Linked DNA regions of Homo sapiens: all the other regions are linked to region 5. The links come from fine-mapping of genetic effects on gene expression. A gene starts in region 5. Each other region holds a variant in brackets. All regions are shown on one strand. Distances are between the middles of the regions.

Evidence for each region.
Region 1: its variant is fine-mapped to the expression of SSH3 in minor salivary gland (GTEx, PIP 0.99).
Region 2: its variant is fine-mapped to the expression of SSH3 in whole blood (TOPMed, PIP above 0.99).
Region 3: its variant is fine-mapped to the expression of SSH3 in monocytes after LPS (Quach 2016, PIP 0.95). The same link has a PIP of 0.9 or more in monocytes after Pam3CSK4.
Region 4: its variant is fine-mapped to the expression of SSH3 in fetal neocortex (Walker 2019, PIP 0.95).

The regions. Positions count from the first base shown.
Region 1 is chr11:67,370,152-67,375,968 of GRCh38, forward strand. It overlaps CLCF1 (cardiotrophin like cytokine factor 1), which reads right to left and starts at 3,447. Exons shown (of 3, transcript NM_013246.3): 1 at 3,373-3,447. The coding sequence starts at 3,388. All of the region lies in intron 2 of LOC100130987 (a long non-coding RNA gene), which reads left to right. RefSeq lists silencers at 2,836-3,175, 3,736-3,785. The variant A/T (reference allele first, on the strand shown) is at 2,157.
Region 2 is chr11:67,379,741-67,385,689 of GRCh38, forward strand. The region is part of intron 2 of LOC100130987 (a long non-coding RNA gene); the gene reads left to right. Among named protein-coding and RNA genes, the nearest start is that of CLCF1, 9.1 kb to the left of the region's middle. RefSeq lists enhancers at 1-355, 1,200-1,249. The variant A/G (reference allele first, on the strand shown) is at 2,896.
Region 3 is chr11:67,239,671-67,244,670 of GRCh38, forward strand. It overlaps KDM2A (lysine demethylase 2A), which reads left to right. Exons shown (of 21, transcript NM_012308.3): 13 at 3,339-3,422. Among named protein-coding and RNA genes, the nearest start is that of GRK2, 24 kb to the right of the region's middle. RefSeq lists enhancers at 372-431, 622-701, 1,282-1,451. The variant ATG/A (reference allele first, on the strand shown) is at 2,608.
Region 4 is chr11:66,300,750-66,306,698 of GRCh38, forward strand. No RefSeq gene overlaps it. Among named protein-coding and RNA genes, the nearest start is that of TMEM151A, 12 kb to the left of the region's middle. The variant A/G (reference allele first, on the strand shown) is at 2,899.
Region 5 is chr11:67,299,982-67,305,930 of GRCh38, forward strand. It overlaps SSH3 (slingshot protein phosphatase 3), which reads left to right and starts at 3,549. Exons shown (of 14, transcript NM_017857.4): 1 at 3,549-3,710; 2 at 4,137-4,174; 3 at 4,792-5,026. The coding sequence starts at 3,645. ANKRD13D (ankyrin repeat domain 13D) reads left to right here. Exons shown (of 15, transcript NM_207354.3): 10 at 12-142; 11 at 1,009-1,166; 12 at 1,301-1,417; 13 at 1,507-1,670; 14 at 1,751-1,842; 15 at 2,138-2,503. The coding sequence ends at 2,351. RefSeq lists enhancers at 2,699-3,216, 3,217-3,736.

The sequences.
Region 1 (5,817 bases), 70 kb after region 5:
TGACAGCTTCCACTCTGGGCAAAGCCATGCCCGTGTCTCAGGCAGCAGGAGGGAAAGCAGCGTGGGGTGAACACCTGCGGTTTAGTCGTGAGCTTGGGAACCCAACACAGCTCGCCTGCCTCCTGAGGAGAGTGCGTGGTGGGCTTCCTGGAGCCCTCATCCATCCTCCCTCAGGCTCATGTTGTGCAGGTGGACCCCGGCCACTGGGGCTGTGTCCTAGGTCCCCCTCTCCCCCTCCCCACCAGTCCTGGCCCCCAGCCCGGCCCCCGCCCCAGCTCTGCCTCTGGCTGCTGCCCACTGATTGTTTACATCCCGTCTTCTCTGTGTGTTTATAAATCCGGCTGAGCACGTGAGGAGCTAACGAGTACAGCTCACGTTTCCTGCAACAGCCCCCCACCCCCGGCCAGCCCCTAATTCCATCCAGATCCCTGGGCCCTAGGAACCAAGGCTCTCCTCATGAACACACACACACACACACACTCTCTCTCTCTTAGCCCAAGGAAGTGACTGGCCACCCAGACAGCTGCACAGGCAGGCGCACCCGTGAGCACATGTCTTTAGCCACTTTAGCCAGCTGCCCCTCAGTCCCTGGCCTGGACACCCCCAGGCTGACCTTTCCCAGTGAGGGTGAGAGTTCAGCCATGCAGATGTGCCAGGGTGCTTAGGGTGGTAGGACAAGTCAATGGGAGTCTCTGCACCTGGGACTATAAGAGCTACGCTAAGAACTGTAAGCCCTAAATGTTGCAGCCAGGGAGGCACTGCAGAGCTCCAGAGGTGGGGCATGGTGGCCTCAGGCTGGGCTGAATATGGGAGCCAGGAGGAAAGGCCAGACCAGGACCAGCGCTGGCTGCGGTTGGAGGGGTCTGTTGAGGGGAATTGAGGGATGGAGTGGGTTAGGCGGGCAGAGTGGGTGAGGAGTGGGCTAGGGATGGAGTGGGTGAGGTCCAGGCATTGTGACGGTAGGAAACTGCCCCAGGGGCGTGTCCTGACCTACCTTCCCAGGCAAAGGCCCACAGAAACCCATCTTCCTTCCACCCTCTGGGCTGCTGCTTTCCCCTCTCTTACTTATCTCCCTTCTGCCTTTTCCTTGGTTCCTTTTACCCCAGGCCACTGAGAAGTAGCTTGGTGAGTGGGGACACATGGGCCTGGGAATTGGGAGACCTAGCTTTGCCACCAATTCGTCTGGTGACTGTGGGCTTGCACAAGGAGGTCACATTATGCAAGCTCAATTCCTCCTAGAGGAAACACACGGGGCTTCATCTCTCCTCTCCTCTCCAGCATCCCCCTTTGTGCCCTTCTCCTCCAGCCTAAATGACAGAGGTCACTGAGGCCCAGGGGAAGAAGCTGAGGGTGGGCCAGCCCCACTGCCTTATGAAGTCAGTAACCAAGCAAGCGAGACAGGAGTTGGGCTTTGGCTGGAGTGAGAGGGTTCCTGATTGTGCCACAAGAGGGCCATGGGTGTGCTCAGGGAGGCCAGCGGGGAGCCAGGGGGGAGCCCAGCAGCCCACTGAGAGCCAGAGGCAGGAGGAGCAGTGAAGGAGGAGTCCAGGGCAGTGGTGGGTGAATTGGAAAGGGTGTTGTTATCAAGAGGGGCGTGGGGGGGGAGGAGAGTGCAGGAGCCAGGTGTGCACAAGAGGTGGGACGTGGGGAGGAATGTGAAGTGTCAGTGAGCCAGTGGCTGGTGTGCAGGGGTGGCGTGCAGGGGTGGTGTGCAGAAGTGTGACGGACAAGAGTGTGGGTCTGTGAATGAAGGGGACAGGGAGCCATTGCACCCATCAGCAGTGTCACTTCTGGGGCTGCCGGGTGACAATTGCCATCTCTGCTTCCTCCCCGGTGGAGCGTGTGGCTCCAGGGCAGCGAGGGTGTCTGAGCTGGCCAGGAGCGCGTCTGGTCTGTTAGGGGAATATGTACTCGCATCCTGTCCGGTGTGAGGGGCAACGTGTGCTCCCGAGCTGTGGCGGAGGTCAGTCGGGGTCAGTGAAAGCACAGAGGTGTCCCTGGGTTAGGGTCAGAGAAGGAGGACCCAGTAGAGCAGCGTGCCCAGTGCCCCCCACCCCTAGCCTCTCTCCAAGGCTTAGCCTCCACCCGCCCGTCTCCCCTCCTCTCCTGGTAGCCCCTCACACCCCGGGGGGAGGGCCAGGCTGGGAGCTGGGGGA[A/T]CAGGGGTCCTCTGGGATTGGGAGGGTCTGTGGGGAGGGCTCCAGAAGCCCAGCACGGAGTTGTGGAAAGGAAGGCGGGTGGGGAGAGCAAGCATGAGGGGACCTCTGGCGAGCCCCGGGGACTCTTTCGAAGGTTTCCTTCGAGGGGCTCGGCCGGGAAGCTGCACGGCGGCGGTTGCCAGCTGGCCCTCCCTGCTGGCGGTGACCTCTCGCTCTGGGACCCCTCCCGGCGCTGCGCCTTCCCCCTGTGTGGCCTCGGCGCCCCCGGCCCCGCCCCCTCCCGCTCCCGCCCGGTCGCTCCTTCCCCGCGGCGGGGGCGGGGGCGGGGGCGGGGGCGGGGTCCGGGGCACCGGGCTCCGGGCTCTGCCCGGCGCTGCCCTTTCCCGCGCGTCAACTCCCCTCCTGCCCGGGCTGAGCGGCTGCTCCCGCCGCTCCCTGGCCAGTGACAGACTTTTTCCTGCCGGGTCCGGCCCGGCTGCGCCAGCCCCCCGCCAAACAATAATCACTCCCAGGCCACGGTGGCCCGGGGGACTCGCGGCCGCCGCCCGCCGCCCCTACCTGCCGCCGGCTCCCCGGCCGTGGGCACCATGGAGGGTTCCGGCCGCGCGGCGCGTAGCTAGGAAGCCGCGAGTCCCGCGGCGCGGCTCGGCCCGTCCGGCCCGGCCCAGCCAGGCTCGGCGCTGCCCTCCGCCCTCCTCTCCGCCGCCCGCCCTTCCTCCCGCCCGCCCTCCTACCCCTCCCGGCGGGCCGGGGAGGGAGAGCGGCGCGGCCCGAGGTGTCGGCCTCCCCTCGCCTCCCGCCGCCCGGCCTCGGGCTCCCCCGGCCTCCCTCCCTCTTCCTCTCCCAGCCCCTCCTCCCACCCGCAGCCTCGCTCCCCGCCTCGGACTCTCTGGCCCCGACTGGTGCGCGGGGCTCTGGGGCTGCGGCTCCTACGGCCCGCCTCGCTGGGGCTCCAGGTTGCCGCCTCCCCAGGTCTGCGATCGTCCGGGCTCCCCGCCGCTCCCGGCCACCTCCTGGCCCCGCCGTGCGGACTCCAGGAATGCCGCGTCCCCGCCCGGCCCCTCTCGAGGGCGCCCAGCCGTGCCTCCCCCGGCCCGAGCCCAGCTCCCTGGCCCGGCCCCGGCGCGGGGCTCCCGGGGGTCAGGGCAGGACGGGAACCGGATCTCGTGGCTGCTTGGCGGGGCGGGGGTCGGGGCCTCGGCCGCCTGGCTCCTACCTGCTCGGAGGTCCATGGGGCTGGGGCCGGGCCGGCCGGGTGCGGCTCCTCTCCCGGAGGCTGGCGGAGTGGGAGGGCGAGCCGCGGCTCCGGCGAAGCTTTAATAATCCCATCCGCCAGGCCCACTCGCAGGTTTTTTTCGCTCGGTTTCGGATTTTTTTTTTTTTTCGGTGTGGGACATTCTGCAAACTTTTTTTTTTTTTTTCTGACGTGTAAAGCTGTAACCACAAATTGTAGCGGCCCTCCCCGGGGTGGGGGTAGGAGGGGGGAGGAGGGAAGGGAGGGCTTCTGGGGCTCCCTCTCCCTCCCACAGCACCGAGGGGGGGTGAGGTGAGGCGAGGCTGTGGCGGTACCACCCTGGGCCTCCTGGGGGAGGGGGCGGGGAGGCCATCAGTCCGTCTGAGGACTCCCAGGAGCCGGGGGACAGCGCCGGCTTCGGGTGGGCTTCTCCCCAGGCGTTGGCCTGGGACACCGCCCCCTGCCCCCTGTCCCCTGCCGATGCGGGGTCCCTGATCCAACCTACCTCTGCCTGTGCGAGGTCCCTGCTCCCACCCTACCTCTGCCTCCTCATCTCTAACCTTCCCTCCTCCTCCCCCTTGAGTAAATGCAATGACACATTCTCCCAAATGCCAGCGAGCTGGCCTGGGAGCAAGTGATGGTGTTTTTCCTGCTGCCCTTTGTCTGGGCTGACCGCCCCCCCTGCCTATTGTCCCGCCGCTTGTCCCATTTCCAAAAGCTAGAGCTAAGCGAGGCGCTGGGGCTGGGGCAGGTGACTAACCAGCTCACAATGCCCCCTGCGGGGGAGGAAGAGGGCACTGCAGGCCCACTGCCCGGCCCAGAGGCGAGAAGAGGCCACTTGGCGGGACTTTTTCCCTCAAGTTCACAAGGTTCTTCATTCTTCCTCCAGTGACCAGGGAGAATGTACATGGGTGGGGGATTTGTAATTCATTAATCAGCACGAGGCAACGGACCAGTTTCAACACCACAGGCTTCTTGGGTGACTCAGCGGGAATGCTCCGATTCAAGGCGATGGACCGCCCGAGCGTCCCCATTTGTGAAATGTTTCCCCATGAAGACCCTGGCATTCTCCTTCCTTTGGGGTTTCGGGTTGTTGGTTTTTCCGGTGGTGAGGTGGGGGTGGCTTAGCGGTGAGGGCTCCCCCTCCTTCCCGCAGGCCTGGGTTGGGATTTGCTGGGCAGGATACCTGGGGGTATGCCTGGACCCTCCCAGAGGGGGTCCCCTCCTCCCTCTCCAAGGGCTGCCGGGGAGAACACGCTCAGAGGAGGCAGCTCTAACCCAGGGCTGGGGACTGCCCTGCTTCATGATTTTCCTGGGGGAGAGTCATGTGGTCCCCAAGGCTTGGGTGCCCTATAGCCACACCACCAATTAAATCACTGGGTAATAAGTTGCTTTTGTTGTTGTTTATTTATTGTTTCAAAGTGGGAGAGGCCAGTGGTGGGCCAGACCTGGAAGGTGATGCCTCTCCCTGGAGTGGCATCAGAGATTTGTCTCCCACTCCTTCCTGGTGCCCCTGGAATGGGAGGGCACTCTGCCAGTCCAGCCCCAGCGCCTCCAACCTGTGGCCTGGGCAGGCATCCTGATCATGGCCAGTGCTGGGTCCCAGGGCAGCTCTTCCCTTCTCTGTACCGCGAGCACTGAGGTGGGGGGGTGGGGGGGGTGGGGAAGAAGTTTGTTTTCAATTACCTCACTGGAGTGGGACAGACTTTGTTGTTGGGTTGGTTTTTTTTTTTCTCTCTCTCTCTGTCCTTTCTTCCTTTTTTTTTTCCTAAACAAGGAGAAAAAGGGCTGGGAAAGGAGAGCTGGCTTGGGGTGGGGGGCAGGGGACTTTGAGGGACCTCAGTAGCAGCTCTGATGAAAACTGCCTGGAGGGACCCTTGTGAAAAGTGCTCAGGGCCTACCTCTGCCCCCCCCACCGCCCCCGCACCTCCTCCCTGCCCCCACCAGCCAGGACTCTGGAGTTTCAGTGACATTCCTGATGGATGAACCCAGTGATTTCTTGATGCCCATGCCAAGGTCAAGAAGGCAGATGCCCATGGGTGCATGGCACGGAGGCCAGCCAGGAGGTCCCCCTAGCTGCTACCCTTTCAGAGGGAGGGGGCCAAGAAGGAGGGGAGAGGGAGAAGGGGAGCCGCTTCAGCCTCTCCCTCCGCCTCGAAGCCGCTCCTTGTGGAGTCTGCACAATGTGGTTTGGATTTGGCTGAGCCCCTCAGCACCTTATAAAGCACCTTGCTGAGTCAGGGAGAAAGCAGCCCCAGTGTCGGGGGAGCGGAGGGGAGGGGGCGCTGAAGAAAGGGGCGGGGGCGAGAGAAGAGGGGTGAGACCAGAGAAGGGGCAAGACTGGGAAGGAAAGAGGAGACACAAAGAGGCAAATGGGTGGGAGTGAGAAAGAGGGGAGGAGGGAGCTGGGAGGAAGAGGGGGAAGCA
Region 2 (5,949 bases), 80 kb after region 5:
TGGGGTTGCCTCTCCCTGGGCTGGAAGATCTTTATCCTGCCCTGCTGAGTCATGCCGGCTCCTCCCGAGCTCTCCTCCCCTCCTACCCCGCTGTCCTCCCCTCTGTCAGGCTTCTCCCAGCTTTCTCCAGACTGTCTGGGCTCCCGCTCTAGGGGCCCCTGGGGTCAAAGGATGGACACCGCCTTCCCTGGGGCCATCCCAGTGATGGGATGTCCCATCTCACGGGCCTGCCATTCCAGCACCACTGGGAGAGTGCCTGCTCCGCCTCCACCAGCTGTGTGACCCCCACCAAGTCTCTAACCCTCCACACCTCTGTTTTCTCCATGTAAAACTGAATGAGGGACAACTGAGTGAGTATAGGTCAAATTGCTGGCACTTAGAAGCAATCAATGATGTTTTATTTATTTATTTATTTATTTTTGAGACAGAGTCCAGGCTGGAGTGCAGTGGCATAATCATGGCTCACTGCAGCCTCGACTTCCCAGGCTCAAGAGATCCTCCCACCTCAGCCTCCTGAGTAGCTACAGATGGATATCACCATGCCTGTCTAATTTTTTGTATTTCTTTTTTCTTTTTTTTTTTTTTGAGACAGAGTCTTGCTCTGTTGCCCAGGCTGGAGTGCAATGGTGCGATCTCGGCTCACTGCAACCTCCAACTCCCAGGTTCAAGCGATTCTCCTGCCTCACCTTCCTGAATAGCTGGGATTACAGGCGCCTGCTAATTTTTGTATTTTTAATAGAGACAGGGTTTCATCATGCTGGCCAGGCTGGTCTCGAACTTCTGACCTCAGGTGATCTGCCCGCCTTGGCCTCCCAAAGTGCTGCGATTACAGGCATGAGCCACCACTCCCGGCCAATTTTTTTGTATTTCTTTGTAGAAACAGGGTTTTGCCATGTAGCTCAAGCTGGTCTCAAACTCCTGATATCAAACAATCTGCCTGCTTCAGCCTCCCAAAGTGCTGGGATTACAGGCGTGAGCCACCTCGCCCAGCCAATAATGTTAAAGAATCTTGTTACCTACCCCTCATACCGTATCCCTCTGTCTTTGCTAATGGTGTCCTCTCTACCCACAATGCAGCTGCCCCTCGTGAGCTCCCCATGGCTACTCATCTAGACCCTTTGTTCTTCTGCCTTCTTCCTGAAGCCTGTCACTGTCATCCCAGCTCTGCTCCCCACCACAGACTTCACTCTCCAGGGCCCTTGCTGCTCTCCACTTTGTGTTATAAGTGCTCTCTAAGGACCCGTCTCATCTCTCTCCTCTTTTGTCCCCAAGAGATTCTTGTAGGACTTCAGTGGGTTGAAGAGGGCTGGAGGTGGGAAGGGTGGAGTCTCATGGCACAGTCAGCTCTGAAGGCATGAGAGAAACCAACCAGTCTTGACCCAGCCCCGTCCTAGGCTTTCAGGTTGTCTAGAAGACATGGGTGGTTTAGGTCTATGAAGAGCTCAACCACTTTCTTTTTTTTTTTTATTTGAGACAGAGTCTCTCTCTGTCACCCAGGCTGGAGTCCAGTGGCGTGATCTCGGCTCAATGCAACCTCCCCCTCCCGGGTTCAAGCTATTCTCCCGCCTCAGTCTCCCGAGTAGCTGGGAGGCAGGCACCCACCATCATGCCCAGCTAATTTGAGGCTCACCCGCTTTCTAGCACCCACAGCCATCTTTCTGAGGCCCACCTTGTGGTCCTTAACAGAGCACTCTGTACATATTTCCGTTTTAGCCTTTGACTGTTGCAAGATTTCAAAATGAAACAGGAACTTAAGGAGATATACAAAGGGCTATGATGCAGAGAAAGGAGAGGTCAGAAGAGGGAGACGTCGGGAGATTTTGGAGATACGGCAGGGAGAATTTGAGTGGCAAAAAGTGGGGGGCCACACCTGACCTGGAACCAGGACAGGAGCTGGGGAGGAGCTGGCATTCAGACCCATGGAATCCCGTCACCTCCCAAAAGCTTTTGGAAGCCCCTGCTATATATGCCTTGCTGAACAGTGTGGACCTACAGAGAAACACAGCCTGCCTGCCAGGGACTCGGGAGCTGGTGGGACAGTGGGCAAGATAACTTCAATACCAACTAGAGATATGGGCGGCCTGCCAGGAGGCTCAGTGCAGACAAGGGCACCTGGAGCAGGCCTCCTCCAGCCTCCAGCTCAGCAGGGAACTTGAGAAAGATCCCTGGATTCTTTAGCATCAGAAAGCCCAGATCTACCACTTATAAGTGACCTGCCTGGGCAACATAGCAAGATCCCCCCCTACTTCCCCAAAAAATTAGCCAGGCATGGTGGCACACACCTGTAGTCCTACCTACTTGGGAGGCTGAGGTGACAGGATTGCTTGAGCCCAGGAGTTCAAGGCTGTAGTGAGCTATTGAGCCACTGCACTCCAGCCTGGGTGACAGAGTGAGACCCCATCTCCAAAAAAAAAAAAAAAAAAAAAAAAAGTGAGCCTCTTAGCCTCACCAAACCTCCAGGGTTCGGTGAGGCCCAGATGAGATAATAAAGTAAAAGGGCTTTGCAAGCTCCGGAGCTCTAAGGAGACGGGAGAGTCCTCTGATCTCCCCACGGTGTAGGCTATCGCTCCCATTTACTGAGCTCTTCCCAATTCTCTGGCACTGCAGTGAAGCATTTGAATACAGCACGCAATCTCACATAGCCCTCCTGAGGCCGGTGCTGTTGTAGTTGCCATTTTACCATGGGTAAACTGAGGCACAGAGTTATATAACTTTTCCAAGTTACACAGGCAGGCAGCCTGGCTCTGGAGCCACCCGGCTCTTAATTAGTAGCCTCCTCCTCACCCTGCCCCTAGTTCCTAAAAATCTCCTCCCTGCCCCCATCTCCCCAGTAATAAGCCTGTCTCAGCCTGGGAGGATGCCCTCTCTGTCCCCTTCTGTCCCACCCCGCACAAC[A/G]TGAGCACAAAACTGCCCCCACAGAGGCCTGCCCAAGGCGGATCAGCAAGGTCTCTGTTCCCGAAGCTGGGACTGGACACGGTGTCTGTCTCCCTCTGCTGGTCTCTTAGGGGACAGCCCAGCCGGGATGCTTTCCCTGAAGCTGGTGGCACCTTATCTCTCCCCAACAGTGGATGCTGAGTATTGGGGAGGTTGAGGAAAAGGCCAGGGACACAGGTCAGGCTCTAACTTACGGGACTCCACGTTGCCTCTTGGGGTCCATGTTGCCAGAAGCCTGCCTCTAACAGGAGTGCAAAGGGGGGTCTTAGGGAGACCGGGCCACCTCCCTGATGCCTGCCCTGGGGGACGGGCCTCAAACAGCCTCCTTCCCCTTCTAACCCATGAATGGAGCCATCATCCATGGATGTATCTAAATCTTTTGTGAAGCTGTTTCTATTTCCAGCTGAGACGACATCTTGGGATAATGAGTTCCATCAGCGTCCTCCCCTGCTGGGTGAAGCACACTGCCTTTTATTTGTCCTAAACTTACCTCACTTGCGCTCCAAGGGGGCCTGTAATTCCAGTGTGCCAGGTTTTGGTGAACAAGCCTGAACTTCTCCCTTCCCATCCTCACTGTGGGTTTAAAAAAATTCATCCTGGCCGGGCGCGGTGGCTCACGCCTGTAATCCCAGCACTTTGGGAGGCCGAGGTGGGCGGATCACGAGGTCAGGAGATCGAGACCATCCTGGCTAACACGATGAAACCCCCGTCTCTACTAAAAATACAAAAAATTAGCCGGGCATGGTGGCGGGCGCCTGTAGTCCCAGCTACTCGGGAGGCTCAGGCAGGAGAATGGCATGAACCTGGGAGGCGGAGCTGACAGTGAGCCGAGATCGCGCCACTGCACTCCAGCCTGGGCGACAGAGCGAGACTCTGTCTGAAAAAAAAAAATTTCATCCCATCTCCCCTCCACCTCCAGCCCTGCAGACTCAAAAGACCTGGTCCCTCATCTGCGCACAGTGCCTGGCAGTGTGGGCACATCCATTATCTCATGCCAGGCTCCAGCAGCTTGGGAGGAAGGCAAGGGCTCACATTCTCCTCTCAAGGCAGAGGACACAGAGGGCCCAGAATCATGGGGCCAGCACGTGGTGCCGCTGGAGGCAGCAGTAGCAGCAGCCTCTCTCCAGAGCCTCTTCCCCATGGGCTGACTCTTCTGACCTTAACCAAGAGTCTTCTTTTTTTTTTTGAGATGGAATCTTGTCCTGTTGCCCAGGCTGGAGTGCAGTGGAGGGATCTCTGCTCACGGCAGCCTCCATCTTCCAGGTTAAAGTGATTCTCCTGGCTGGGCGCAGTGGCTCACGCCTGTAATCCCAGCACCTTGGGAGGCTGAGGCGGGTGGATCATGAGGTCAGGAGATCGAGACCATCCTGGCTAACACAGTGAAACCCCATCTCTACTAAAAATACAAAAAGTTTGCCGGGCGTGGTGGTGGGCGCCTGTAGTCACAGCTACTTGGGAGGCTGAGGCAGGAGAATGGCGTGAACCCGGGAGGTGGAGCTGACAGTGAGCCGAGATCGCGCCACTGCCCTCCAGCCTGGGTGACAGAGCGAGACTCTGTCTCAAAAAAAAAAAAAAAAGTGATTCTCCTGCCTCAGCCTCCTGAGTAGCTGGAATTACAGGTGTGTGCCACCACGCCCGGCTAATTTTTGTATTTTTTTTTAGTAGAGAAGGGGTTTCACCATGTTGGCCAGGCTGGTCTTCAACTCCTGACCTCAAGCAATCTGCCTACCTTGGCCTCTCAAAGTGTTGGGATTACAGGTGTGAGCCACCGTGCCTGGCCAAGAGTCTTCTGAATATTTGCCAGTTTCTGGACAGCAGGCCTTTTCTCTGTAATGTTTCCTTGCGAGACTTTCCTCCTGGGATCCTTGTGTAGATTCACCCTAGCTTTGTCCAAGCTGATGGTTTGTTTTGTCTCCAGTCCCGGCCCAAGGATACTGTAAGGATGACTCGAGCTGGAGGGGCAGGACGCAGCAATCATAGTCGCAGCAGTGCTAACAGCAGATTCTAAGAGCTGCGTAAATATTAAGTTACTCCTCACAACAGCCCTTTGAGGTGGAAACAGGCTTGGAGAACATAAGCAACTTGTCCATTTTTGCACAACTTGTTAAGTGATGGAGACTGCGGCTAGGCTGGATTCAGACCTACACGGGCTGGCATCCACAACTGCATTCTCAACCTCAACAGACAATCGTGGGTTCAAGTCCCGAAACCTCTCTGAATTCCGTACTCTTCAGTCATTCAGCACAGACTTATTACACCACTGCTGTGTGCCAAACATCATTCTGATTTCTGGGAGAAATGCCAGGGAACAAGAAAGGCAGGGGCAGAGCTTGGCTGGGGGGCTGGCAGCACTTGGAATGCCACAAACTCATTACAAGCAGGGCAGGTACCCTGCCAGCTCAGAGCTGCCTTGCCTGCCTGGTTACCCCACAGTAACCATACAAATGCCAGTCCCTGTGTGTGCATGATGAGAAGAAAACAAGCCAGAGTAAACTCCTGAACCCTAAACTCCTCTACTCCTCTGCCCCTTCTGACTTTTAGTTACCCTGATCTGGAAAAATGCCAGCCATGAGTAATACTGTCTGTGCTCCTTTGTCTGTAAGGAGGGCTGCATGGGGAATCCCATGGTGGGACAGAGCAGTGCCTGGCAAATGAGCCCCACCAATGGCTTCTCAGCAACTGTGCTTTCCTGGCCAGCCCGTGCTCTAACCTCACCCCTCTCAGACTGTTTCATCCTCCAGGAAGCTCTCCCTCATGCTCCTGACCAGGTCTTCCCCAGGACATATTCGCAGAGCCCACGTCATCATCATTCCTGATCCTTCTCAAAGGTGTAATTTCATATTTACCTTGATGATTCTTTGGCTAATCTCAGTCTTCCCCCACTAGACCCCCGCCCTCCCCAGCTCAGGAGACCGGACTCTGCAGAAGGTACCAACCACCCACACTTCTGCTCAGAGACTTGGCACTGGCCATTCCCTCTACCACAGCACTCCTTCCCGGACATCTGCGCTGTCC
Region 3 (5,000 bases), 61 kb before region 5:
GAGCTCTGGCAGTAACAGTGGTAACAGTGAGAGGTGACCCTGAGGGGAAGGGTGTGGACTGAAACAAGGACAAATGTGGGCCAAGGTGCCTAGTGTAGCCCGCAGAATGAGTTAAAGCCTTCCCTTTGGCTGGCGCCTTCAGAAGTCTGCCACCGGGAGCCCTCAGGGGGCTGGCCCTAGGTTCTCCTATTGCAGTGGTGGTGGGAGGGAGACAGGGCGGGGGCTGTGGCTGAGCTCTCCTCCCTGGCAGGGCCTCTTCCAATCGCGAGGAAGAAAGCAGTTGCTGAACACACCCCCTCCCGGCTCTGCAGCAGAACGGCTGGGCCCTCTGCCTGGCTCGCTCACTCTCGCTCGGCTCCCCCTCCTGCCATCTTCCGTTGCAAAGCATTTCTGGGAGCTGCATGTGGGTGACGCAGCAGCATTGTTCGCAGGCACAGGAAGCCGCGGCTGAGCTGAAGGGCTCGAGAAGGAGCCCAGAGCGCTGCACGCTGCTCCCTCTGGGTAGTCTGAAGGGTCAGAGCTGGACTGCCCTGCCCTATGTGCTCTGGGAGATTCCAGAATATTCAAGTAAATCCGGATTTTCCCAGAGGCAGAATATCTAACTCCTTCAGGAGAACTTCCAGTACAGAAAACAAAACAAAGACGCTGGGGAAACTTCACCAAGAGCCTCGGCAGCTCCAGAGCGACGGGAAACGAAAGGTCAGGGGGTCGATCGGCAAACCCTTTCTGGTTTGGGGTGCGTGTAACTATAGGGACTTTTGTCTCAGTGAAGAGGCAGGAGAAACTGCCTGCCGGGCGAGTCCAGGACAATGCTATGTTACTTCGTGTTGCTTGAGCCGTCATTGCACTTGTTCCCTCACCTGGTGGGATGTGCTTTTGAATTGGGTTGGTTGGCTTTTGAGAATCCTTTCCCTCTCTGCCCAGGCACCTTCTGTTCTCTTTCCCTTCCTGTGATCTGTAGGGTGTGGGCTTGTGTTTAAATGTTCTCCCGAATGCCTGGAGCCGAGATAGGCGTCAGCCTTTCCCGCACTCCACCCCCGCTCTCCTATCCCAAACCCCCTCTAGTGAAGGGTGGTGGCTTCTTTATATGGTTTCTTGTAGGGCCTCAGCTGGAGTCTGCCTTTTTTGATGAAAGCAGGGCGTGCTTGGTTGAATGGCCCCAGCAAAATAAGGCTTGGAAGGAAATCTGCATTTCCCTCCACACCCACACATACCCCAGTAACTGAGTCTTGTATGTGTGAACAGCTGCCACCCCCCACACACACACCGACACAGTTTTCCGCCTACCCTTCCCTATTCCCCACAAAAATCTTGCAGGTAGAATTAGACTGCTTTTGGTGAACAGTTAAGTTCCTTTTCTACTCTTGAACAATCGCAGATCTTACTGTGCAGTCTGTTTTGCTGAAAGTGGAAAGTCCCCGTTTGTGGACAGCTCAGTTCACTTCAGCAGAGGAAATGGGCAGAGTCCTACTCTTCGTCAGTGCGAAGTGGGGGAGGGGAGCCATGCACTCCCTAGCACACATTTTGAATGGACCTGAATTTTTCACCCTAGGGAGATTAGGAGCCCATACCAGAGCCTTGTCCCACGTGGCACCACACCCCGCCTCTTCACCCCCACGCTGTATGGTACTAACAGAAAAGGATGCCATAGCAACTTGAAGTAAATAAAACATCCGCAGATGAAATGAGTTTGGGGGAAGGTGAGAGGCATCTGGAGACTTGGCAAAAGGGGATCTTAGTAGAGGAGCTTCTTGGCTATGAGTGAAAGGGTCTTTCTGAGACCCAACTTTGGGATTTGGAGCAGGATCCTTAGGTTAAGAATGAAAATACATAAAAGTCCTGGTCTCCGGGACAGAGCACACAGGATTATGAGAAAAATTATTAGCAATGGCCCAGACTTGCTAACCTGTCCAGGATCAGAGTTTAGTGTTTGCCGAAACAGTTACCATCCTGTACATACATACCTAGGGTAGCCAGAAAAGGAATCATGTAACTTGTCTCCCAGATTTATTTTGCTGTTGGTGTTGCTTTAGGGCTCATAAGGTCAGAAGAAGAAGGATTCCATTATACTAGAAGATTTGGGTTTCAGGAGTTTCTGTCTAAAACGAAAAGATTTGGCCAGGTGCAGTGGCTCATGCCTGTAATCCCAGCACTTTGGGAGGCCGAGGCAAGCGGATCACCTGAGGTCAGGAGTTCGAGACCAGCCTGGCCAACATGGTGAAACTCCGTCTCTACTAAAAATACAAAAATTAGCTGGGTATGGTGGCAGGTGCCTGTAATCCCAGCTACTCAGGAGGCTGAGGCAGGAGAATAGCTTGAACACGGGAGGCGAGGCGGAGGTTGCAGTGAGCCGAGATAGCGCCACTGCACTCCAGCCTGAGCAACAGAGTGAGACTCCATCTAAAAAATAAAAATTAAAAAAAATATATTTGTTTCAAAATAACAGTCAACCAGTGTGATTCACTTAAGTGGCATTTTCTCACTGTAGCATTGTTCGTAAGTCATTTAAATTTTATTGGTAATGCCATGAGAACTTTTGCCCCTAAGATTGTTCCTTTCCCCCATTTAGAGGAATAAAGGCAAATAGCAGACTCTGTGGGTGTGTGT[ATG/A]TGTGTGTGTGTGTGTGTGTGTGTGAGAGAGAGAGAGAAAGAAAGAGATTTGAGATTGAGATTTCTGTAATCAGCCTTAGAAGAAAAGAGCCCTGGGTTGAATCTGCACATTAGGCTGTACCATTCATCTCATTAATTCTGTATTAGCAAATCATTTTTATGCCACTTGGTTCACATCTGAGAAATGAAGGCAATTACCTGATAATATTCACTAACTGGTGTAGAAAAGTGAAGAAGCAATAATAAAGTTTTACTGTCATATGTAGAACTGTATGAGAAGTAACACTTGTCACCACAGTAAGTTAGTTGTTTCAGTGTGTTAGTATAATTAGTACACAAGTAAGGGATTGGGAACAAAGGTGAGTTTGAAGTCCTTTCTGCTCCCCCACCACCACCATCCGCCCCCAGTAGAGATGGGTCTTGCTGTGTTTCCCAGGCTGGTCTCAAACTCCTGGCTCAAGTGATCCTCCCACCTCTCACAGGCATGAGCCACTGTGCCCAGCCTCAAAGTTTTGATAATATTGCAGCAGCCTAAGTTTGAGTTTTCTCCTTCACCTTTGATTTATTTGTTTTCCAGTGAGTCTCTATATGAAGGGCAAATACAGACAGTTGCCACCCTGCCTCCCTTGCTACTCAAGGGTACTGAGGCAGAGTCTGGATGCTGTTCAGGGTGGTTGGCTCTTTGTTCACCCTGCCCTGATTTTTCCTTCTTTTCCCTCCTACCCTTAGATTTTGCTGGAGGAGCTTGCCAACAGCGATCCCAAGTTAGCCCTCACTGGAGTTCCTATAGTACAGTGGCCAAAAAGGGATAAGGTAAGAAACTATTTTCCTTGATCTTTAGGCTGCTTAAGCCTTTTGTTAGTTGATCATTACCATTCTGGGGAAAACAAGAACAACTAGAGGCAGATGGCTTTTGGTGCATTAATACAAACTGACAGAAAATCATTATTCAGTTCTGTTTTGACTCGTAGGTCAGGGTAATTGGCTATCTTTGGAGGTGACCTCTCTTAACAGAACTATCAAACTGGGAGGCCTCCCTCCAGATTCAGATGCCAAATTGTGCATTTGTGCATCCGCTTCTATCCTTGTGACCAGTTACTCAGCTATCTTCACAGATATGATTGAAAGCCAGTTAAAATAATTACATAGATATCTAAAAGGAGCAGAGTTTTTCTTTGACGTAGTGAGATCATTCTCTCAAAAATCCCCTTACCTTGGACTTTGCAGTGTGGAATGGAAAAGAGAAGAAAGGGGCCGGGCATGGTGGCTCACACCTGTAATCCCAGCACTTTGGGAGGCCCAGGCAGGTGGATCACCTGAGGTCAGGAGTTCAAGACCAGCCTGGCCAACATGGTGAAACACCGTCTGTACCAAAAATACAAAAATTAAGCCAGGCGTGGTGGCATGCGCCTATAATCCCAGCTACTTGCAAGGCTGGGGCAGGAGAATCACTTGAACCCAGGAGGCAGAGGTTGCAGTGAGCCGAGATCGCACCATTGCACTTCAGCCTGGGGGACAAGAGCGAAACTGTCTCAAAGAAAAAAAAAGAAGAAGAAGAAAGGAATTACTGTCAGCTAATAAATTGTCAATTATGAATTTTCATGCCTCTTCAGTTTAGATCCTGTATAATTTTTTTCCCCATACTGTCCTCTATCAAGGTTATGTATTAAATAAATGATAGCATTCTGATCCTGGCTGTGAATTTGGCAAATAAATGAGGCTTCTGTTTGTTGTTCCCTAGCTGAAACTTGCAAAGCCATCACATTCCAGGGGTGTTTAGGCAGAATATAAAGGTATGGAGTTGAACAGTATATTTAGAGAATCACCTCCTCGTCCCTAGTGGGAGGAGTCCTGCTTGGCCTCTGCTTGGCCACAGGTGACTGCCTTAAAACAATTCAGTCATTTCTGGTTGTTGAGTATTTTGTGTCAGAAAAGTGTTTAAGATATGGTAAGAAATTAAAGTAGTAGAAAACATGGTCCTTGTCCTTGAAAAGGTCACCAGCAGGGTAAATGCAAATGCTAAGAAATGTGTTCCACACTTAAATATTATTGAAGTGTCTGCTATCTACCAGTTCGTATGCTTGAATTTGGAGTACTAAAGAAATGAACAAGACTAGTTTCACCTTAAGGGAGTTTACTGTCTTCTTTAGGAGTATAATCTGAGAAGTCAGGATGAGGAAATATTGGAGGGCTCCTGGAGTGACTTCGGTACATGGCACTTGATACAGAAAGCTCAGGGAGGGGTGAATCTTAACAGCTCTGCAAAAAGAAAGGGAAGCAGCTGAATTAGTAGGCCAAAGGGCTAGGACAAGGGCTGGTAAATTTTTCTGTAAAGGTCAAGATAGTAAATACTTTAGGTTTTGTACACCACACAGTCAACAATTTCTCAGT
Region 4 (5,949 bases), 1.0 Mb before region 5:
GACAGCTCTCAGCTCACAATCTCCTGATGGGAGATGGGGTGGCCACGTGTTCAGACTCTCTTGGAGTCAACATCAAGCCAAGGTGTTCTGTTCTAAACCGTTCTCAAGAGAAGAATTCATGCCTGAGAAGGGGTGCAAAGCCTGGCTCCCAAACCCCAGCGGCCTCTGCCTCTGCTCTCTCCTGACATAGGCTACCCACAGCATGGCAGGAACAGAACCTGTAATTTCCACCCCTACCACCATCTGCTCCTCTCTGTCTTCCATCTCAGGAAATAGAGCTACCATTCAGCCAGTTGCCTAAGCCAGGCACCAGCACGGCAAGCCTCTTCTTTTTTTTTTTTTTTTTTGAGATGGAGTCTCACTCTGTCGCCCAGGCTGGAGTGCAGTGGCCAATCTCAGCTCACTGCAAGCTCCGCCTCCCGGGTTCATGTTCATGCCATTCTCCTGCCTCAGCCTCCCGAATAGCTGGGACTATGGGTGCCCGCCACCATGCCCGGCTAATTTTTTGTATTTTTAGTGAGACAGGGTTTCACTGTGTTAGTGTTAGCCAGGATAGTCTCGATCTCCTGACCTTGTGATCTGCCCGCCTTGGCCTCCCAAAGTGCTGGGATTACAGGCATGAGCCACCGCGCCCAGCCGCCTCTTTTTTTTTTTTTTTTGAGATGGAGTCTCGCTGTCACCCGGGCTGGAGTGCAGAGGCGTGATCTCAGCTCACTGCAACCTCCGCCTCCCGGGTTCAAGTGATTCTCCTGCCTCAGCCTCCTGAGTAGCTGAGATTACAGGCACATGCCACCATGCCTGGCTAATTTTTGTATTTTTAGTAGAGACGAGGTTTCACCATGTTGGTCAGGCTGGTCTCAAACTGCTGACCTCGTGATCCGCCCACCTCAGCCCCTCAAAGTGCTGAGATTACAGGCGTGAGCCACCCCGCCCGGCTGTCTCTTCTTTTTTTGAGACCGAGCCTCGCTCTGTTGCCCAGGCTGGAGTGCTGTGGCGCAATCTCCGTTCACTGCAGCAACCTCCGCCTCCAGGGTTCAAGCGATTCTCCAGCCTCAGCCTCCCGAGTAGCTGGGATTACAGGCACCCGCTGCCACGCCCATCTAATTTTTGTATTTTTAGTAGAGATGAGGTTTCTGCATGTCGGCCAGGCTGGTCTTGAACTCCTAACCTCAGGTGATCTGCCTGCCTCAGCCTCCCAAAGTGCTGGGATTACAGGCATGAGCCACCACGCCTGGCCTGTTCTTTCTTTAAAACTTTGTATTATGTAAAATTTCAGCTTGTAATCCCAGCACTTTGGGAGGCTGAGGTGAGAGGATCACTTGAGCTTGGGAGTTTGAAACCAGCCTGGGCAAGATAGTGAGAGCCCATCTCTACCAAAAAGTTAACAATTGGCCAGGTGTGTTGGAGCTCACCTGTAGTTCCAGCTACTCAGAAGGCTGAGGTGGGAGGATCGCTTGAGCTGGGAGGTCAAGAGGTCAAGGCTGCAGTGAGCCGTGATTGTGCCACTGCACTCCAACTTGGGTGACACAGCAAGACTCTAGTCTCAAAAATAAAATAAAATATCTTTCTTTCTTTTTTTTTTTGTTTTTTGTTTTTAGACAGAGTCTCGCTCTGTCACCCAGGCTGGAGTGCAATGGTGCAGTCTTGGCTCATTGCAACCTCTGCCTCCTGGGTTCAAGTGACTCTCCTGCCTCAGCCTCCCGAGTAGCTAGGATTACAGGTGTGTACGACCACACCTGGCTAATTTTTCTAAAAAATAAAATAAAATTTCAAACATCACAAAAGCAGAAAGATTGGTGCAGTGAGGCCCCTTCTACTCAGCACCCAGTGCTGTGATGATCATCCACCTGCAACCACTCTGGGCTCCATCCACACTCAGCCCCACTTATTTGAGCTCCAACTGGATTATTTGAAGAAGACCTAGAAGCTGTAGCATTTCGTCAGCTCCCCTCACCCGCCCCACCACGCGTGATATCGACCACCCAAGATTCTACTCAGAACACAACACACCCCACCTCCTCTCCACCCCAAGCCACCTTGCTCCAAGTGCCCAGGATTCCTCCCCCATGACTCCGACAGGCCTCCCACGCCCACTTACTCCTGCGGCCTATGCAGAGACCTCATGTAAATCAAATCACGTCCCCATTGGTTTCTGTCTAAAGTTCTCTCCCACCAACTCTCAGCTCGCTTTGCATTTCCTTTCGGCCACTCACCATAAGTTACAATTATTTTCATTTATTTATGCACGAGTTTCTTTATCTGTTTCTTCTATTAGAATTAAGGCCATGGGGCTGGTCATGGTGGCTCACGCCTGTAATCCTAGCCTTTGGGAGGCCGAGGCGGGCGGATCATGAGGTCAGGAGATCGAGACTATCCTGGCTAACACGGTGATACCCTGTCTCTACTAAAAAAAAAAATACAAAAAATTAGCTGGGGCGTGGTGGCGGGTGTCTGTTGTCCCAGCTACTTAGGAGGCTGAGGCAGGAGAATGGTGTGAACCTGGGAGGCGGAGCTTGCAGTGAGCCGAGATGGCGCCACTGCACTCCAGCCTGGGCGACAGAGCAAGACTCTGTCTCAAAAAAAAAAAAAAAAAAAAAAAAGAATCAAGGCCATGGGAGGCGAATAGTTACACGGCCAGACCCTTGAGTTGGTTGGAATAATTCCAACTCTCCACTACAACCTGAGAAGCCCTGGGCAAGTCACTTATTCTCTCTCTTCTTCAGTCTTCTCATCTGCAGAATGAGAGATGACAATAGAACCTATTTACTTCAGGCCGGGCGCGGTGGCTGACACCTGTAATCCCAGCAGTTTGGGAGGCTGAGGCGGGAGGATCACGAGTTCAGGAGATCGAGACCATCCTGGCCAACATGGTGAAACCCCATCTCTACTAAAAATACA[A/G]AAATTATCCAGGTGTGGCGGTGTGTGCCTATAGTCCCAGGTACTTGGGAGGCTGAGGCAGGAGAATTGTTTGAACCTGGGAGGTGGAGACTGCAGTAAGCCAAGATCACGCCACTGCACTCCAGCCTGAGTGACAGAATGAGACTCCATTTCAAAAAAGATAGATAGACAGATAGATAGATGATAGATAGATAGATAGATAGATAGATAGATAGATAGATAGAGATATATACTTTTTTTTAAATTCATAGACAGGGTTTTGCCATGTTGCCTAGGCTAGTCTCAAACTCCTGGGCTCACAAGATCCTCCTGCCTCAGCCTCTGCAGTAGCTGGGACCAGAGGTGTACGCCACCATGCCCAGCTATATATGTTTATATTTTGTAGCGATGGGATCTCCCTATGTTGCCCAGGCTGGTCTCAAACTCCTGATCTCAAGCAATCCTCCCACCTCGGCCTCCCAAAGTGCTGGGATTACAGGTGTGAGCCACTGTGTGCCCAGTCAAATTTTTTTTTTTTTTTTTGAGGCAGAGTCTCGCTCTGTCACAGAGGCTGGAGTGCAATGGTGAGATCTTGGCTCACTGCAACCTCCACCTCCCAAGTTCAAGAGATTCTCCTGCCTCAGCCTCCTAAGTAACTGGGATTACAGGCATGAGCCACGATGGCCAGCAATTTTTTGTATTTTTAGTACAGACAGAGTTTCACCATGTTGGCCAGGCTGGTCTTGAACTCCTGACCTCAAGTGATCCACCTGCCTTGGCCTCCCAAAGTGCTGGGATGACTGATGTGAGCCACTGCACCCGGCCTATAAATAAATATATATTTTTAAATATTTATTTATTCCCCATCTAATCTTATAGACGGCCTTATCTAAGGCTCTCTTATTTATTTATTTATTTTTGAGACGGAGTCTTGCTCTGTCTCCCGGGCTGCAGTGCAGTGGCATGATCTTGGGTCACTACAACCTCTGCCTCCTGGGTCCAAGCGATTCTCCTGCCTCAGCCTCCCAAGGAGCTGGGACTACAGGCATGTGCCACCATGCCTGGCTAATTTTTGTATTTTTAGTGGGGATGGGGTTTCACCATGTTGGCCAGGCTGGTCTCAAACTCCTGACCTCAGGCGATCCACCTGCATCGGCCTCCCAAAATGCTAGGATTACAGGCAGAAGCCACTGCACTCGGCCAATAAATATTTTCTTAAAAGATACTATGTGACCGTGCTTAAATCAGGGTCTCAAGCATAGGAAGTGCTCAATAAAGATTGCTATCATCATCATTTGCATTATTATAAATTACAAGTGGACGCTCCCTCTTACAACATACGCACACTTCACCAGCAGCCAGCGCAGTGCCTGGCACACATAATGGATGTCTAGTCAATCTGTGTTAAGTGAATGATTCCCGATCTCCTACCAACACTTCCAACTTCCTGGGGTTAGCTGGGTCCTGAGGGCCAAGTGGACCACGGCCCAGACCAGCCAAAGTTTTCATTGCTTGGCCACACTTGCAGTGGAGCTTTTCTGATCTTTGGTTAGTGGGCTTGAGAACTTAGGGCACCCAGGGAAGCATTTGCCAACTACCTAATCCAGCAAACCATGGCATTCTATGTTTCCTCCTTGGATCCAGACCCCAGACCACTAGACCCCTAGAGCTTCCCCGAGGTGGCAGGCCCAGGTGCATTCATTTTTTGTGAGTTTCATCTTCCCTCTTACATCACACCTGCTGCCTTCTGTTCTTCAGAGCCCGTGAGTATGAAGTCACTGCTGAGATGGCCTGGGATGTATCTGGAAAGGGCAAGGAGGATCAGGCATCCAGCCAAAAGTTGGATACACCCTGAGTGAGGATGGGGAAGGTGCGCTGCTGCCCTTCTGGGTAAAGGTCAAAGCTCCTGGAAGTCAGATTCAACAGAGACCAAGACAGACAGATTGGTTAAACTGATGACTACATATCAAATGTAGCTGTGCCACATCTGCTCCAAGGAGGCATTTCTGTCCAGAATATCAGCTGAGACTGAAATTGGCTAGTTCTCAGTAACCCATGGTCACAGTCCAAAAGATAGATGTATTTTTCTTTTTTCTTTTTTTCTTTTTTTTTTTTGAGACGGAGTCGCGCTCTGTCACCCAGGCTGGAATCCAGTGCCGCAATCTCGGCTCACTGCAGCCTCCGTCTTCTGGGTTCAAGTGATTCTTCTGCCTCAGCCTCCCGAGTAGCTGGGATTACAGGTGTGTGCCACCACGCCCCACTACTTTTTTGTATTTTTGGTAGAGACGGAGTTCCACTGTGTTAGCCAGGATGGTCTCGATCTCCTGACCTTGTGAGCCACCCACCTCGGCCTCCCAAAGTGCTGGGATTACAGGCATGAGCCACTGCGCTTGGCCATAGATGTATTTTTCTTCTCTTTTTAAAAAACATATAAAATAAAACGGACCAAAATACGAATACTTTTTTCAGTAGAATAGTTTCAATTTATGTGTTATAAAAGCACAATACAGGCTGGGCGCAGTGGCTCATGCCTATAATCCTAGCACTTTGGGAGGCCAAGGTAGGCAGATCACTTGAGGTCAGGAGCTCAAGACCAGCCTGGCCAACAGGGCAAAACCTTGTCTGTACAAAAAATACACGCCTGTAGTCCCAGCTACTTGGGAGGCTGAGGTGGGAGGATCGCCTGAGTTTGGGAGGTTGAGGCTGCAGTGAGCCATGATTGTACCACTACACTCCAACCTGGGTGACAGAGTGAGACCCTGTCTCAAAAGAAAAAAGCACAATACATTATAAAAGACAATAACATTGTGCTATAAAAGACTGCAAAAGTGGGCCGGGCGTGGTGACTCACACCTGTAATCCTAGCACTTTGGGAGGCCAAGGTGGGCAGATCACCTGAGGTCAGGGGTCTGAGACCAGTCTAGCCAACATGGTGAAACACTGTCTCTACTAAAAATACAAAAATTAGTCGGGGGTCGTGGTACGTGCCTGTAATCCCAGCTACCGGGAGGCCGAGGCAGGAGAATTGCTGGAACCCAGGAGGCAGAGGCTGCCGTGAGCCGAGATCGTGCC
Region 5 (5,949 bases):
GACCCACGCAGGCCCCCGTGCAGCAGGCAGCCAGCCCCACCAACCCCACAGCCATCTCCCCTGAGGAGTACTTCGACCCCAACTTCAGCCTGGAGTCACGGAACATTGGCCGCCCCATCGAGATGTCCAGCAAAGTACAGAGGTGAGGTCTGAGAGCTGGCTGGGGACTTGCCTCGGGACAAGGGCTCTTGCAGACCCCTCTCTGGGCCTGTCATAGTTAGGGACCCACTCCCTCGGCTGGCTTCTCTCTGGACTCCACTCCTGGAGGGCAGGAGTCATGTCTGCCTTATCCATGGTCCTCAGCCCTTAGCAAGGGGCTTGGCACAGAAAACCGGTAGTTTGTCTTTGATGAATGGATGGTGCCACCCATGTATGGTTTTCTATTGAATTTCATGAGTACCTGCTGGGGCCAGCGTGGCACAGTGGGAAGGGCCCCCAGCGACGTGGCCTGGGAGTGGAGCGTCTGCCTTGGTGGAACAGAACAGTTACGCTCTTGCCTCGTGAGGAGCCTTGAGCAGGTATAGGCGGTAACAGCAGGCACAGTGCCTGCACAAGCCTAGCGCTCTCCCCACCATCTCAGGAGGATTCTCTTAGCCACCCAACAGTCGCTGGGATTCGAACCCTGGCAGTCTTGCCCTGGGGTGTGCTGGACATAAAAGTTTGGCAACACGTGAGCTGGTGACCAGCTCTGGGCTGAGGAGGAAAACGGGGCTGTGGGCCAGGCCCAGAGAGAAGCCCACAGCCTGGCACCTGGCCTCCTTGTCCAGACCAGATGAGCTGGTACGAAATCCTCAGGAGCCCCAGCCTGGGCCCAGGGAGGAGGGCAGCTTGGGCCACGTGGCCAGGACACCAGCTCCCGGGGGAGGCGGGCAGCGGCATCTGAGCAGAGCAGGGCACTCCAGGCCAGGCAGAAGGTGGGTAAAGGCAGCTGCCCACGAACCAGAGGGCAGTCCTCAATGGAAGGGCCACCAGCCGTGCCTCACCCATGTCCTGTGGTCGGCTGGGCAGGTTCAAGGCAACACTGTGGCTGAGTGAAGAGCACCCGCTCTCCCTGGGTGACCAGGTGACCCCCATCATCGACCTAATGGCCATCAGCAACGCTCACTTTGCCAAGCTGCGCGACTTCATCACTCTGCGCCTTCCACCTGGCTTCCCCGTCAAAATTGGTGAGAGGCTGGGCACAGGCAGCGGGAGGACCTCAGGCATGGCACCCTCCCTCAGCGCAGTCCCTGGAGAGCTGCAGGGGCCGGAGGCACAGGTGGCTCTCCGCCAGGGCTCAGGCGTGGCTGTCTTCTCACAGAGATTCCCCTTTTCCACGTGCTCAATGCCCGCATCACCTTCAGCAACCTGTGTGGCTGTGATGAGCCCCTGAGCTCCGTGTGGGTGCCGGCCCCCAGCTCTGCTGTTGCCGCATCAGGTACCCCAACGGGAGGAAGAGGGAGCCTGCACAGCTTTCTGGTCACCAAGCCCCGCGGGTTGAGCGTGGCCCCTCTGCCACCTGCCTAGGGAACCCTTTCCCGTGCGAGGTGGACCCCACCGTGTTTGAAGTGCCCAACGGGTACAGCGTGCTGGGCATGGAGCGCAACGAGCCCCTCCGGGACGAGGACGATGACCTCCTGCAGTTCGCCATCCAGCAGAGCCTGCTTGAAGCGGGCACTGAGGCGGAGCAGGTGGGACTTGCCCAGGGGGTGGGCTCTGGCCTCTGCAGCCACACGGCAGAAGTGACAGCTGTGGGCTCTGGTGGCTGCAGGTGACCGTCTGGGAAGCCCTGACCAACACCCGGCCCGGTGCCCGCCCTCCTCCCCAGGCCACGGTTTATGAGGAACAGCTTCAGCTGGAGCGGTGAGCCCCTCATGGGGCTGGCTGGGTCCCTGTCCCCCCAGCCCTGGCTTGGCGGGGAGGGGGATAGCAGGAAGGTGCTAGGACCCCAGGCCCTCTGCAAGGCCACCCTCTGTCAGCAGCGCTATCTGCCACCAAAGGTGGTGTGAGGGGTGGGGAAGCAGGGCCCTGCCTTGTCTCCTCTGCTTGCCACCCTGTCTTTGCCTTTGTCCTCCAAAGCCGGTCCCCAGCCCCTCGGCTTCTGCCCCAGCCTTGGCGCTCACTGGCCTGTTCTTCCCTCCCCTGCCCTGCCTGGAAGGGCCCTCCAGGAAAGCCTGCAGCTGTCCACAGAGCCCAGGGGCCCAGGATCCCCTCCCAGGACACCCCCAGCCCCCGGTCCACCCAGCTTTGAAGAGCAGCTGCGCCTGGCCCTGGAGTTGTCTTCACGGGAGCAGGAGGAGCGGGAGCGGCGCGGGCAGCAGGAGGAGGAGGACTTACAGCGGATCCTGCAGCTGTCACTCACTGAGCACTGAGCCATAGCCCCGGGAGGGCTGGCCAGGCCACTCCCTGCCCGCTTTTGTAATTTATTTATTTATAAACTCTCTGCTGCTGAGCTTGGGGCCTGGAGCCCCAGGAATGAGCAGGCAGGGGAGACTGAGATGGAAATAAAGAGACTGTCGCAGCAGGGCTGCTCTGCTCACTGGGCTGGAGCGGTGGGGACCCTGAAGGTGGGGCGCTGTGGAGAGGCACTGTGGATGGCGGCCTCAGACCTGGGCTTGAATCCTGGTCATGGTCCCCTTAGCCTATCTGAGCCTCAGTTTCTTCAGTTGTAAAATGAGGAGACCACCCCCCACCCTCCGCCCCTCAGGGCTGAAAGGAGCTGGCGAGAGTCACGTGTCCTTACCAAGCAGGCGTCCTGTGAAAGTCAGATCCCCTGTGCCCTGTCCCACCTGCTGGGGACCCGGTTCGTCCTGCCACCCAGCCTAGTCTTCTGGAAACCGGCCCACGTGCCTGCTGGGGAGGAAAAGCCTGGGTCCCCAGGCACCATTCACCTCCAGCTGGGAAGAGCCCCGACGCCGACCCCTGCAGCCAAGCCCAGGCCCTGGCCCTGACTGCGGCTTGTTCTCTGCGGGTGGGTTTGCGCAAGTCACTTCCGCCTGCGTAGCTGGAAGCCCTGCCCTGCTCGCCTCCGAGGTGGACCTGAGAGCCCCTCATGGGCTTCCTGGGTTATTTGTAAACCCCAGGCCGTTTTCCCCGGAAGCCTGTCTTCCAGTGGTTCCTGCGGAGTGGGAACGAGAAGGCCGACCAGCAGGGAGAAATGTTTGGGGTGGGGGCCCTTGGCCGAGGGCGCGCCGTGCCTGATCCTCTCTAGACCTGTCCCCCACCTCCCCACCTCAGCTCTGCCTCCCTAGGACCCGCCTCTGCAGGGCACAGGACGCTGGAGGCCCAGAACAGCTCAGGTGCTCCCGCTGGGCCGGCCCGGGCCGGGCGCTTCCTGGGAGGGGGACCAAACTCCCGGCCTTCAGCTCTTGCCCTCCGGGTCTCCGGGCTCCGCACCTGCGCCCGCCCCCGGCCTCGCCCCTGACCTGTGCCCAGGGGCTGGGCGGGCCGAACAGCGGAGACCGGAGGGGCGGGGCCCGGCCGCCCTGAGAAGCTCCGCGGGCCCGGCTGGGCGAGTGTCTGGCCCTTTAAGGGCCGCCCCCGAGGAGGTGCCAGGCCCGGGTGGCGCCGTCCGTCCTTCCTGGTCCTGCGGGTCCAGGACTGTCCGCGGGGTTGAGGGAAGGGGCCGTGCCCGGTGCCAGCCCAGGTGCTCGCGGCCTGGCTCCATGGCCCTGGTCACAGTGAGCCGTTCGCCCCCGGGCAGCGGCGCCTCCACGCCCGTGGGGCCCTGGGTGAGTGTGGTCCGGCCGTGGTGCCGCCCACGCAGTTGCTGCCCCGGCTTGGGAGCGCGTCCTGCCCGCCAGCGGGCTCCTCTCGAACGGGGACATGAGGAGGGGGCCCCGGGGCTCGGGCTGGAGGGCGCTGGGGGCCTCGAGGGTCTCTGGTACTGGCGCCGGGGCACAATCCAGAGCCCTGCGCGCCGCCCGGGCTGCGGAGGCCCCGATCTGAGCGCGCCCCCCGCCACACTCGGCGCCCACCCAGCCGACCTGGCCTTGGGCCGGGGCTCCACGGGGCCTCCCGGTGGGGCGTGGACTGGGGTGGGAAGACGATTGGCATCTGGCGCCTTTTCTGGCCTCCCCCAACTCTAGAATTCCTGAGAGAGGGGAGGGGACAGCCCTCCCCGCCCTCACCCTGCCCTGGGGCTGCTCTCTCCGCAGGACCAGGCGGTCCAGCGAAGGAGTCGACTCCAGCGAAGGTGAGCGCCACCTCCCCCACGCAGACACTTCCGTCTGCCCCGGGCCTGGCCACGGCCGTCCTGGGCTCCAGCTGCAGGGACAGAAAGCTCCCCGGAGGACGCGCAGCGAAGCCCACTGCCAAATTTGTGGGGCAGCGTTCCCGGTGGGGCCGGCTGGTGGGCTCGCGGTAGGGCGGCCTTTGCCTTCACCCTCCCCCTGGTCAGCTGGGGCTTCCTCATCCACTGCCCTGGGCTTTGGCTCAGGTGGTGGCCACGGGCCGAACGGCAGGAGGGCATGATGGGCCTGAGGACTCCTGGGTCCCCGACCATGTTCCCAGCAGCACTTGAGTTAAACAGGTGGGAGGGGAAAAGGAGCAGCCCCCTCTCCCCACAGATGAGCTAGAGTAGAGGGGCTGAGAGCTTGGAAGCCCCCAAGACTGGTTCTCAGCAATATTGCCAAGGGGCCGAGGGGTTAGAAATGCAGATGCTCAGGCCTCCACTCTAGACCTATCGACCGCGTGGGGGCCCATGAATCCGTGTAGACAAGGGCTGCAGGTGAATGTGATGCATGCTAGACTTTGAGAGCCCCTACCCTAAGGGGAATGAGGAGCCATGACAGTTGCCCACTGCCCTGCCAGGCAGAGCTTTGCGGTGCTCCGTGGGGCTGTCCTGGGACTGCAGGATGGAGGGGACAATGATGATGCAGCAGAGGCCAGTTCTGAGCCAACAGAGAAGGCCCCGAGTGAGGAGGAGCTCCACGGGGACCAGACAGACTTCGGGCAAGGATCCCAGAGTCCCCAGAAGCAGGAGGAGCAGAGGCAGCACCTGCACCTCATGGTACAGCTGCTGAGGCCGCAGGATGACATCCGCCTGGTGAGGGCCCATGTGGAGCTCCGGGGGGTGGGGGGAAGAGACACGCCTGAGGGCAGAATGGAGCCCTGTGTATGTGTCTGCTTGGGGAGCAATGGTGTGAGGGCAGGGGGCAGCCTGGGGAGTGTTGGGGTTACCCATATCCCAGTGACCCTGCTGTTTCAGGCAGAGATGTTTTGTTTTTTGTTTGTTTTTTTTTTGAGATGGAGTCTCGCTCTGTTGCCCAGGCTGGAGTGCAGTGGCGTGATCTCGGCTCACTGCAAGTTCCACCTCCCGGGTTCACACCATTCTCCTGCCTCAGCCTCCCGAGGAGCTGGGACTACAGGCACCCGCCACTATGCCTGGCTAATTTTTTTTGTATTTTTAGTAGAGATGCGGTTTCACCGTGTTAGCCAGGGTGGTCTCAATCTCCTGACCTCGTGATCCGCCTGCCTCGGCCTCCCTAAGTGCTGGGATTACAGGCGTGAGCCACCGCGCCCGGCCTGGGCAGAGATATTTTGACAGGGCGAGGTCATGGCTGCAGGTCTCTGGAAGGGAAAGAACAGGGGAGGTTTGTCCTGTGTGAGCCAATAGGGCCAAATTAGGTCCAAGGGGTGGGAATTCCAGAGGCATGTTTCTCCTCAACCAGTAGAAGACTTTCCTGATGATGTGAGCTGTCCCTAAATGGACCAGTGCACAAGGCAGGCTTGCTGGACACACACTGGGGGAGGGTGTGCTAGAGGGACCCAGGCAGAGGGGAGGAGGACTCCAGCCCCACGGAGGAAGGGAGTCCAGGTGGAGCTGGAGCGCTCATGCTCAAATACTTGTGGAGACAGCTCGCCGTCCTCAGCAAGACGTGGCAAACAAGATGCAGTGAATCTTTGGTAAAACTGAATTTACAACAGAAGTATCATCCCCTATCGTGAGATTTTGTCCTTAATATTTCT